2 separate regions of the Homo sapiens genome follow, and region 1 is linked to region 2. Evidence: fine-mapped expression QTL. A gene starts in region 2. The other region holds a variant in brackets. All regions are shown on one strand. Distances are from middle to middle.

The links. PIP is the estimated chance that this variant, and not a neighbour inherited with it, causes the effect. A credible set is the group of variants that fine-mapping cannot tell apart.
Region 1: its variant is the best candidate, but not a certain one, in a credible set for the expression of PDLIM2 in monocytes after LPS (Fairfax 2014, PIP 0.83).

What each region holds. Positions count from the first base shown.
Region 1 is chr8:22,638,310-22,642,684 of GRCh38, forward strand. The region is part of intron 2 of BIN3 (bridging integrator 3); the gene reads right to left. It overlaps BIN3-IT1 (BIN3 intronic transcript 1), which reads right to left and starts at 3,900. Exons shown (of 1, transcript NR_027715.1): 1 at 2,062-3,900. The variant C/T (reference allele first, on the strand shown) is at 1,923.
Region 2 is chr8:22,578,280-22,582,654 of GRCh38, forward strand. PDLIM2 (PDZ and LIM domain 2) reads left to right here and starts at 2,196. Exons shown (of 9, transcript NM_001368120.1): 1 at 2,196-2,418; 2 at 3,100-3,251. The coding sequence starts at 2,326. RefSeq lists enhancers at 1-656, 3,430-4,122 and silencers at 513-912, 983-1,052, 1,153-1,242, 1,253-1,412, 2,143-2,232 and 1 more.

The DNA of each region.
Region 1 (4,375 bases), 60 kb after region 2:
ACAAATGAGGAGCCCGAAGCCCAGAGACAGGAGTGACTTCCCTAAGGATGCAGGACATTCTGGTGGCAATGCAAGGCTAGAATCCAGAGTCCTGGTTCAGGTCTTTTTGTTTCAAATTTAAACAACATTCATTCCTACGAACATGTATGAGCACCTATTAAGTGCGATGCATTCTGCCAGGTTCTGGGGATACCCTGGTGATTCAAACAGACATGGGCCCTGGTGGTGGAGATAAACAACTGCCAGATACAAATTTACTTGCTGACTATGATGGGCCTTTTGGACAGCAGGAATGAGGCCAGAGAGAGTTGAACACAGAGTCTGCTTAGCTCTGGCTCTCTGGGCATGACAACAGACTCACTGCATGGAGATAGCTTACCTTCCTCATTTCAACTGTAAAATCCAGAAGCAGGAAAAAAATGATCTTTTCCTTACTTTATGATCCTAGCATCTAGAACCTTCCACAAAACTGTGAAGTAAAACCCACCATTGGTGCCCCCGCCTCCCATCCTACAATCTTTCTTCCTCTTTTCAACAGACTCTTTCTCCATCCAGGAACCCACTATTTTTATCATTACTTACCTTAGGATCCAGCAAAAGCTACTCGTAAGAAAAAAATTCAAAAATCACTCCCACTAAAGCACAAATGCTTGATGAGCATTTAAAGTGTTGCCTGTCCCAGGGGATTTACAAGTTTGCAGGAACCAAAGTCTTAGCTAAAGGAACGGAAAGACTCTGGTGTAACTGCAGGTGGGAAATTTGCTTTGGTGTGAAGGAGCCTCGCCAGGGCCCTTGAAAGTCTGTACTTTGGTGTCAGCCTGGTTTTCTCCAGCAGGGCTGGAAGAATGCAGTTTAGAGGCATGAGCAGAGACAGGTAAGATATGAACTCTGATACTAGCTGTGGAGACTTGATAGTACTAAGCATTTTTTTTTTTTTTTTGAGACAGGGTTTTGCTCTGTTGCCCAGGCTGGAATGCGATGGTGGCATCATGGCTCACTGCAGCCTTGACCTTCTAGGCTCAAGCAATACTTCTGTCTCAGCCTCCTGCATAGCTGGGACTATAGGCATATGCCATTATGCCTGGCTAATTTTTTAAATTTTAGTGGAGACGGGATTTTGCTATGTTGCCTAGGCTTGTCTTGAGCTCCTGGCCTCAAGTGATCCTCTTGCATTGGCCTCCCAAAGTGCTGGGATTACAGGTTTAAGCCACCTCACCCAGCCAACTTTAGGTGGCTTACGAGGAAATAGCTGATATCATCTACCCCAGTGGTTCCTTTTGAGGATTAAGAGGCAGTGCGTGTAGAGCAGATTGCAAGGTGCCTGGCCCATGGCAGTCCTCACTAAATGTTAGTTTCTGTGTTTTTCTCCTGCTCACTGGGGTGCTGGGAAGACCAGAGCAATTTGGGGCTGCAGGCTGGGCTATAAACCTGGGCTATAAGCTGCCCCAAGCACACAGGAAACTAGCAGCCAGGGAAACCCTGATGTTGGTTAAGGGTGGAGTCCCATGCTTGGGTGTTGTGATAATGCCCTAGCTCCCTTTACTAGACACACTTTTTTTTTTTTCTTTTGAGGCGGAGTTTCGCTCTTGTCACCCAGGCTACAGGGCAATGGCGTGATCTCGGCTCACCGCAACCTCCGCCTCCCGGGTTCAAGCGATTCTCCTGCCTCAGCCTCCCGAGTAGCTGGGATTACAGGCATGTGCCACCGCGCCTGGCTAATTTTCGTGTTTTTAGTAGAGACAGGGTTTCTCCATGTTGGTCAGGCTGGCCTCGAACTCCTGACCTCAGGTGATCCCCCCCGCCTCGGCCTCCCAAAGTGTTGGGATTATAGGCGTGAGCCACTGTGCCCAGCCTGCTGGACACATCCTTCTTCTTCTTTTTTTTTTGAGACAGAGTCTCACTCTGTCGCTCAGACTGGAGCG[C/T]GGTGGCACAATCTCTGCTCACTGCAACCTCTGCCTCCCAGGCTCAAGCAATTCTCATGCCTCAGCCTCCCACGTACAGCTGGGACTACAGGAGTGAGCCACCACACCCGGCTAATTTTTGAATTTTTTTTTTTTTTTTGGTAGAGATGGGGTCACCATGTTGCCTGGGCTGGTCTTGAACTCCTGGCCTCAAGTGATCTGCCTGCCTTGGCCTCCCAAAGTGCTGGGATTACAGGCATGAGCCACCGCGCACGGCCCACATCTTTCCTCTAACCTTGCAGGATATGACAGCTGAGCAGCATCTTTACTTATTAAAAGTATTTATTTCCAGAAAGAGAAAATTAAAACTAAGCACTACTTGGCCCAAACCAAACCCCTCTAGAGATCCAGAACACACAGGGGGCGCTCTTTGGGAGGGGTGCTGAGTGTTAGCTGAACCCCGGGGCCCTAGCCTTTGGCTCCCTTCCTCCCTTTTGCAATCCCCCAAGTGTGCCGATGTGTGTGGGATGTCAGACAACACCTGGTCTCCCTGGCTGGGGACTGCTTGGACTTGTACCGGGAGGGACTTCAGGTTTTCAGCTAGGTTGATCATCCTGGAAGCTGAGGAACTTGAGGTCTCACAATGAAGCTGAGGAGAAGGTCAGGGGTGGGAGCGCGTTTTCTACTTGGTGCCGCTCAAGGCCATCTGACAGCCTGAGAGGAGTTTGGACACATTTCACCTCCCCTGCTTCCAGCGGCCGGGGTGGGTTGCTTCTCTAGCTCACTGGTCCGAGAGTTCTCTCCTCCACTGGGGAAAGATGCACGGGGACACTGCCAGAATTCTAGCCTCTCAGATAATGGCTAAGGGACTAAAGGGACACACTGGAGCCTCATTCCGAGGAAAAGAGCCAGACAGAAAAGATCTGAACATCTTTGAATGCTTGATGCCTTTGCCAAAAAGGCAATTGGACCCCAGTCAACAATGCAAGTATAAACACATGTGCACGGACCATCAGGGGATCAGGGCAAGCTGGGCCAGGCTGGCGAGGTTAGCTCAGGGAGAACCAAGCCCCAGACGACTACCCGTGGCCACCCCCTGCATTCATTCTCCAAGGCCCACGGTGGGAGGAAAGGGTTTTGCTGTTCCCTGCTCTTTTGGCAGTGCACAGGTCAGGCCCTGGCACAGAGTGGGAACTCAGTATGAAGTGAATGAACAGGCTGAGTTCCCACCCAAACTTATGCTCATGGTGAAGTGAAAAAGGAAACTGGCAGGCAGGGCTGGGGCACTGATCCCAGGGCTGAGGTGCATCTGATCGGAGTCTGAGAAGCCCAGAATCCTCAGCATTCTGGGAAGCCCCTCCTTCAAGGGATGCTCTGCGTGGAAAGTGGGCTCCCTGTAGGTATGTTCTAGCAGGATTAAGCAGGATTAACGAGGCTAAGGGCCCCGCCACCTGGCAGATGAAAATCCTTCTCCAGTGGAGAGGCTGCATGTGGCCAGACTCTCTTTGCCCTAACTTTGCAGAGCACCCACCTGGCTAGGAACCTTGGAGCGCATGTTCCTTGTGTGCAAGACTCACAGTAACCCTTGTTTCAGGGGGACACGAAGAGCAAAGCTTCGAAGAGCTCTTCCATCCTCCCAGGTTATGGAGGAAGGTGTGGCGGCTTCTTCCTACGCTACGATGCTCCCGCCACTTTATGGGACCTGGGGAGTGGGAGGGGACTGGGTGGAAGGTTAGGATCGGGATCGGGGGAGCTTTTGTTCCTCCATCTCAGTTCTAATGGTCAGCCCCAGCAGGAACAAGCCATTCTAGCCAAAGCCTTGACAATAATGGAATTTGTGTTAATAACCTGGGCACAGGAGAGCAGTGAGGGTAGGGACACAATGCTTTCTTTGTGCCTGACAGTTGGGTGCCTTGAGCCAAAAACCTCCTGAAACTCCCTGAAGATAACGTGAGCATTTCTTCCCATGACAGGGGCTCCATGACTTCCAATAACCCAGGCAGCCACAGCTGCTCCCCTCCCTGAAAGTGCCTGGGCAAGAACAACAGAGTGCGTCACTGCTGTTCAAGGGCAGCTGCCAGAGATGCTGAGACAACTGCACAGCCCAGGCCTGTTTTGGGGGCCGGGAGGGGGTGGTGGGTGGGGAATGAGACTGAAGAGGCAGGGTCTTACTACTTCTACTTCAGTGCCTCTGGGGAGTGGAGGGGTATAGGCCAGGGAAGCAAATAACTACTCCGAGCTGTAGCTCAGCTGTGATTCCTTGTGAGAGATCAAAGGCCCAGCCGACTTTTGTTGCGTTGGGAAATCTAGCTGCCTGGGACAGGCTGAGTCCCTGATGGTTCATAAAGAAGGTCAAATCAACCAGCTTCCTGTGATGTAGTTAACTGGGGACTTATTTTGTGCCAGACACTGTGTTAGGTGCCTTCAGTGTATTATCTTGTGTGAGCCTCAAAGTAACATCTGTGACACAGGTA
Region 2 (4,375 bases):
CGAGAGGCGGCTCTATGGCCTTGAGGTCCCCGGAGAGAGGGTTGCCAGGTACGGCTTCTCCTCCCCGAGCTGGCACCGGGGTCCCCTCCTTGGCTGCCCTCTCCTCATCCTTATAGCCTGGGCTTCAGGTGCTTGAAAGAGGACAAGGGAGGGGGCAGGAAGCGGGGTGAAGACCTGCAGAGAGGATGAGGTGAGGGCCCACGGGAACGGGAAGGTACCAGCCCAGGGGTGGGGGTGCCCAGTGAACCCCTAGCCAGGAGGCTCTCTCCATCTCCTAGGGCCCCTGCGGGTCCCCCTTTGCGGGCATTCCAGGCAGAGAAGTTCTGCGCTGCCGAGAAGCCAGCGTTCAGGAAGGGAGTTGGCGGGCAGGAGGGTGGCCTTGGTTTGGGATTTGTGGGTGTCAAGGCCGCATCTGCGCCAGCCTCCCAGCCTGGAGTGGGTGGAGGAGCCAGGCGGACCGCAGACACACCCAGGCAGCCCACCCTGCCCAGGACCTGGGGATGCGGGGCGGGAGAGCGCGGCCGGCGTGGGAGAGCTTTATGGGGCTGCCCCCTCGATCGTCTGCGAAGTGGGGCGCGGGGCAGTCCCTGGACCGGCTCTGCTGTGCTCCGGGCAGTCGGGGGCTTGCGGGCGCTCCGGGGAGGATGCGGGCACCACCGGCTGGACGGTCGCAGCCTGCAGGGGGCCCTGGGGACAGCCTGCCTCATCCCCCCGGCGGGCTCGGGCCAGGTGGCAGCGCCTGGGCTCGCCGCGCGGAGGCGGCGGCTTCTCGGGCTAGGGGCGGCGGCAGGGGCGGCCCCGGGATCACATGGGCGGAGGCAGGTCCGGGAGCCCCGGGCGGGCTCTCCCCAGAGTCGGGTAGACGGCAGCGGGAGCGGTGGCGTCTCCCCGCCTTCCCTCCCTCCCGGGCCTGGGCGCCCAGCCGGACAGGTGAGCGGCAGCCAGGTGAGCGCGCCCACCTGCGCCTCTCCGCGCGGCCCGCCCTCCCCGGCGCCGGGCTCCTCTCCGCGCCCCTGTCGGCGCGGAACCCTGGCCTCGTCCGCGGCCCAGCTCCCTGGAGCCTCGCATCAGCGGGGGCGCCCCCGCGAGCTGCGCTCTCCCCGGCCGGAGCGCTCCTCCTCCAGCCCCCAGCCCGCAGGGTACTTTGCCCTCGGAGCGAAGGAGGCTCCAGAACTGGTAGAGCCGGGCCATCGGGCTGGGCACCTCCCCGCGGCGCCCGCAGCGCGGAGTCCACTGACCGGCTCAAAGGTCTGGGAATCTCGGGGCGGCCGCGAGCCGGCCTCGGGGACTGGGGTGGGGGCGGTGCTGGGAACAGAGGCTAGGCCTGGGCCCAAGGGGAAGGCAGCCGGGGATGGAGCGGACAGACCGCTGGTGCTCTTGATAGATTCTCGCAGCACTTGCGTCCCCAGGGCAGCCCCAGGATGGGTGCTGGGCAGGGTGGTGCCCAGCCTGGCACCGCGGCTTCCTGCCTGGATTGGCTCCTGGCTCCAGAGCTAGAGGCTCAGGAAATCCCACAGGGGTCTGTCTGCAAGGGCACTTCCTTGCCCAGCGGAGGGGCTGTGGATGGGAGGCCTGTCACCCCGGCTGTCTGTCGGGCAGCATCAGGAATCTGGGGGTGGGTGTGTCCAGCTTGACAGATGAACCCTGGCCTCCTTGCCCTGGCAGCCGGCCCCTGGGGGAGGTGGGGAGCCCGGTCTTGCCCGTGTGATCCACTTTGCCAAGAACGAGGTGGGCAGCTAGGAGGCCCATGTGAAGACTCGGCCTCACCCCACCAGTCCTTCACCTGGCCAGTGACTTACACAGTCTGTACTGGTGCCAGCCTGTTCCTTGACCCGTCACTCCTGCTTCCTGAGCCCTGCTCTCCCTAGGCCACTCACCAGCCCTCCCCCAGAGTGGAGAGGAAGTACCGTGTGCTGTGGGTTTTGGGGACAGGAAGCAAGCGCTAGTGGGACTGAGCCCTGATGGTGGAGGAGGGGAGACTGAGGGGGTGCTGGCATCCCCTCCACTTGCCAGCCCCTGCCCCCCATGCTCCAGCAAGCCCCCTGCCTGGCAGCCTGGGCAGCCCCCTCCTGGGAGTCGCTCCCTGGGCTGAAGACTAAGGAAGGGAGAACCCAGAAGCATGGCTTCCCAGGGTGGGGGGAAGTGAAACCGGGCTGAGGGAGGGAGTTAGCCACTTCCTCTACCCACCCCAAAGCCCCTGAGTAGCTGCTCCGGGAGCTGTGGTGCCCTCTCCTTCTCCCTTTGGCTCCTCTCCTGCTGCCTTACAGTGCCCCCAGAGCCGGCTAGGGGCATGGACTTCACCTCCTGGTCCTCTCTTCCTCAGGTATGGCGTTGACGGTGGATGTGGCCGGGCCAGCGCCCTGGGGCTTCCGTATCACAGGGGGCAGGGATTTCCACACGCCCATCATGGTGACTAAGGTAAGGATGGTGGCTCAAAGAGATGAGAAGGTCCTGCCAGAAGCGAGGTCGGCCCTGTTCACCCCACTCTGCACAGATGGCTTGCTTTTTCTGTTCTGGAGCTAGGGATCTGCTGCTGCCTGGCGTGCTGGCTGTAAGGGAGCCGTGGCCCTTTGCCACGGGGATGTGGTGGCCACTTCAGGAACAGACCTTGGGAGTGAAAGGGAGCTGGGACCAGGACAGGGCCGGCTCTTGCCTCCCCAGTTGCTATCCCCACACTTGCAGGCAGCCATTTGGGGTGATTACTAGAACAAGAGCCCCGGAGTTCTTGGCAGTCTCCTCTTGACCTGGGCCCAGGCTGGGAACATTCACAGGAGGGCTGTGCAGGCAGCCACCTGCAAGGTGCGATTTGCACGGGCAAGGCTCTCTATCCAAAAGTATTTCCAAGCACAGTTCCTGAAATTCTGCCACTGCACATTCTTTGGGAGGCCCATTAGAATGCCAGTGTGGGGTGGGGGCTGCCACCTGCGCTCCTGGAGGGGATGGCTGATCAGCTGGGTGTCATGAGCAGGCAGAGGGACATGCAGGAGGGTGCAGGCCGGCCTGGGTCAAGCCAGCCTCTGTGTTTCTTGGGTAGCAGAGTGGGAAGTCCCTTCTCCAGCTGGGCCACGGTCTGAGCATGCCAGCTCCTCATCCCTACAGGTGGCCGAGCGGGGCAAAGCCAAGGACGCTGACCTCCGGCCTGGAGACATAATCGTGGCCATCAACGGGGAAAGCGCGGAGGGCATGCTGCATGCCGAGGCCCAGAGCAAGATCCGCCAGAGCCCCTCGCCCCTGCGGCTGCAGCTGGACCGGTAGGGCCTCCCGCTCTGCAGAGCCTGTGGCATTCCCCCTCCTCCACCACCCCACGTATTGAGCAGCCCTTGCTCCTGCCCATGGGCTAGAGCTCAGCCCTAAAGCGGCCTTCTTGGGCCCTCTCCACACCTTGGTGAGAAGGTCCTGGGCTCTGCTTCCTGCAGCAGGGTGGGCTGAGGGGTGTTCCCATGCCTGGTTGGGTAAAGGTGGGCGCCAGGCTGGGCGTGCAGTCACAGGCTGGGCAGGGCGAGCTGGCACCAGCCACCTTGAAGCCCGGGTTTGACTGGTTCCCAAGAGTGTGCAGGGCACAGGGCGTGGGCATGAAGTGGGTTGAAGAGGGGAACCTTCTGGGAAAGGTATGCCCGAGGCTGCATCCCCAGGACTCCTGCTTCCAACAGGGCATGGCCTTTGTTTAGTTCCCAGCTGGAAGTGAGGACTTGGGGGGCTCATTCCTCATAGAGGCTGTCTGTTCCTCCCCATCACTGAAGGCAGATGCCCGATCCTGGGTTACTCCTAGGGTTTTGAGCCTATAAGCCAAGGTGGGGCCAGGGTGGGGCCTGGAGGCCAAGCTATAGGGGGAACAGGTGGCTCCCTGGGGTGGGGCATTGCAGTGAGTCACAGATCGGGAATGCCAGGAGATCCCCGAGCCAGGAGAGCCCTCTGCACGGGCCTAGAACCTGAGTCAGACACCTCTTGCATCCTGGCCACCCCCACATTGTCCTGCTCTCTTCAGCCCTACCAAGCCCCTCCTTCTCCAACTGCCCTGCCCTGTGGTGTGGCAGAAGCCGGCTCCCTTCATGTCATTCAGGTCCCTGGGTGTTTGCAGGAGCGGGACCCCAAGAAGGAGGGTAGAGAGCACCTCATGGCATCTGGGAATGGGGCAGAAAGCTACAGGAGGCTGAGGGTCTGGCAGCGGAAGGGCAGGAGCCTCGGACTGTCTCTTCCTCTGGGGTTCTCTGGAGGGACCAGGGCTCGGGGGAGGTAGGCCTGGGCTGTAAGTCAGGCCTCTGGTTCTGCACCAGGCAAGCCCAGACTCCAGTCTCTTAATTTTTTTTTTTTTTTTTTTTTTGAGACAGAGTCTCGCTCTGTTGCCAGGCTGGAGTGCAGTAGCGTGATCTCGGCT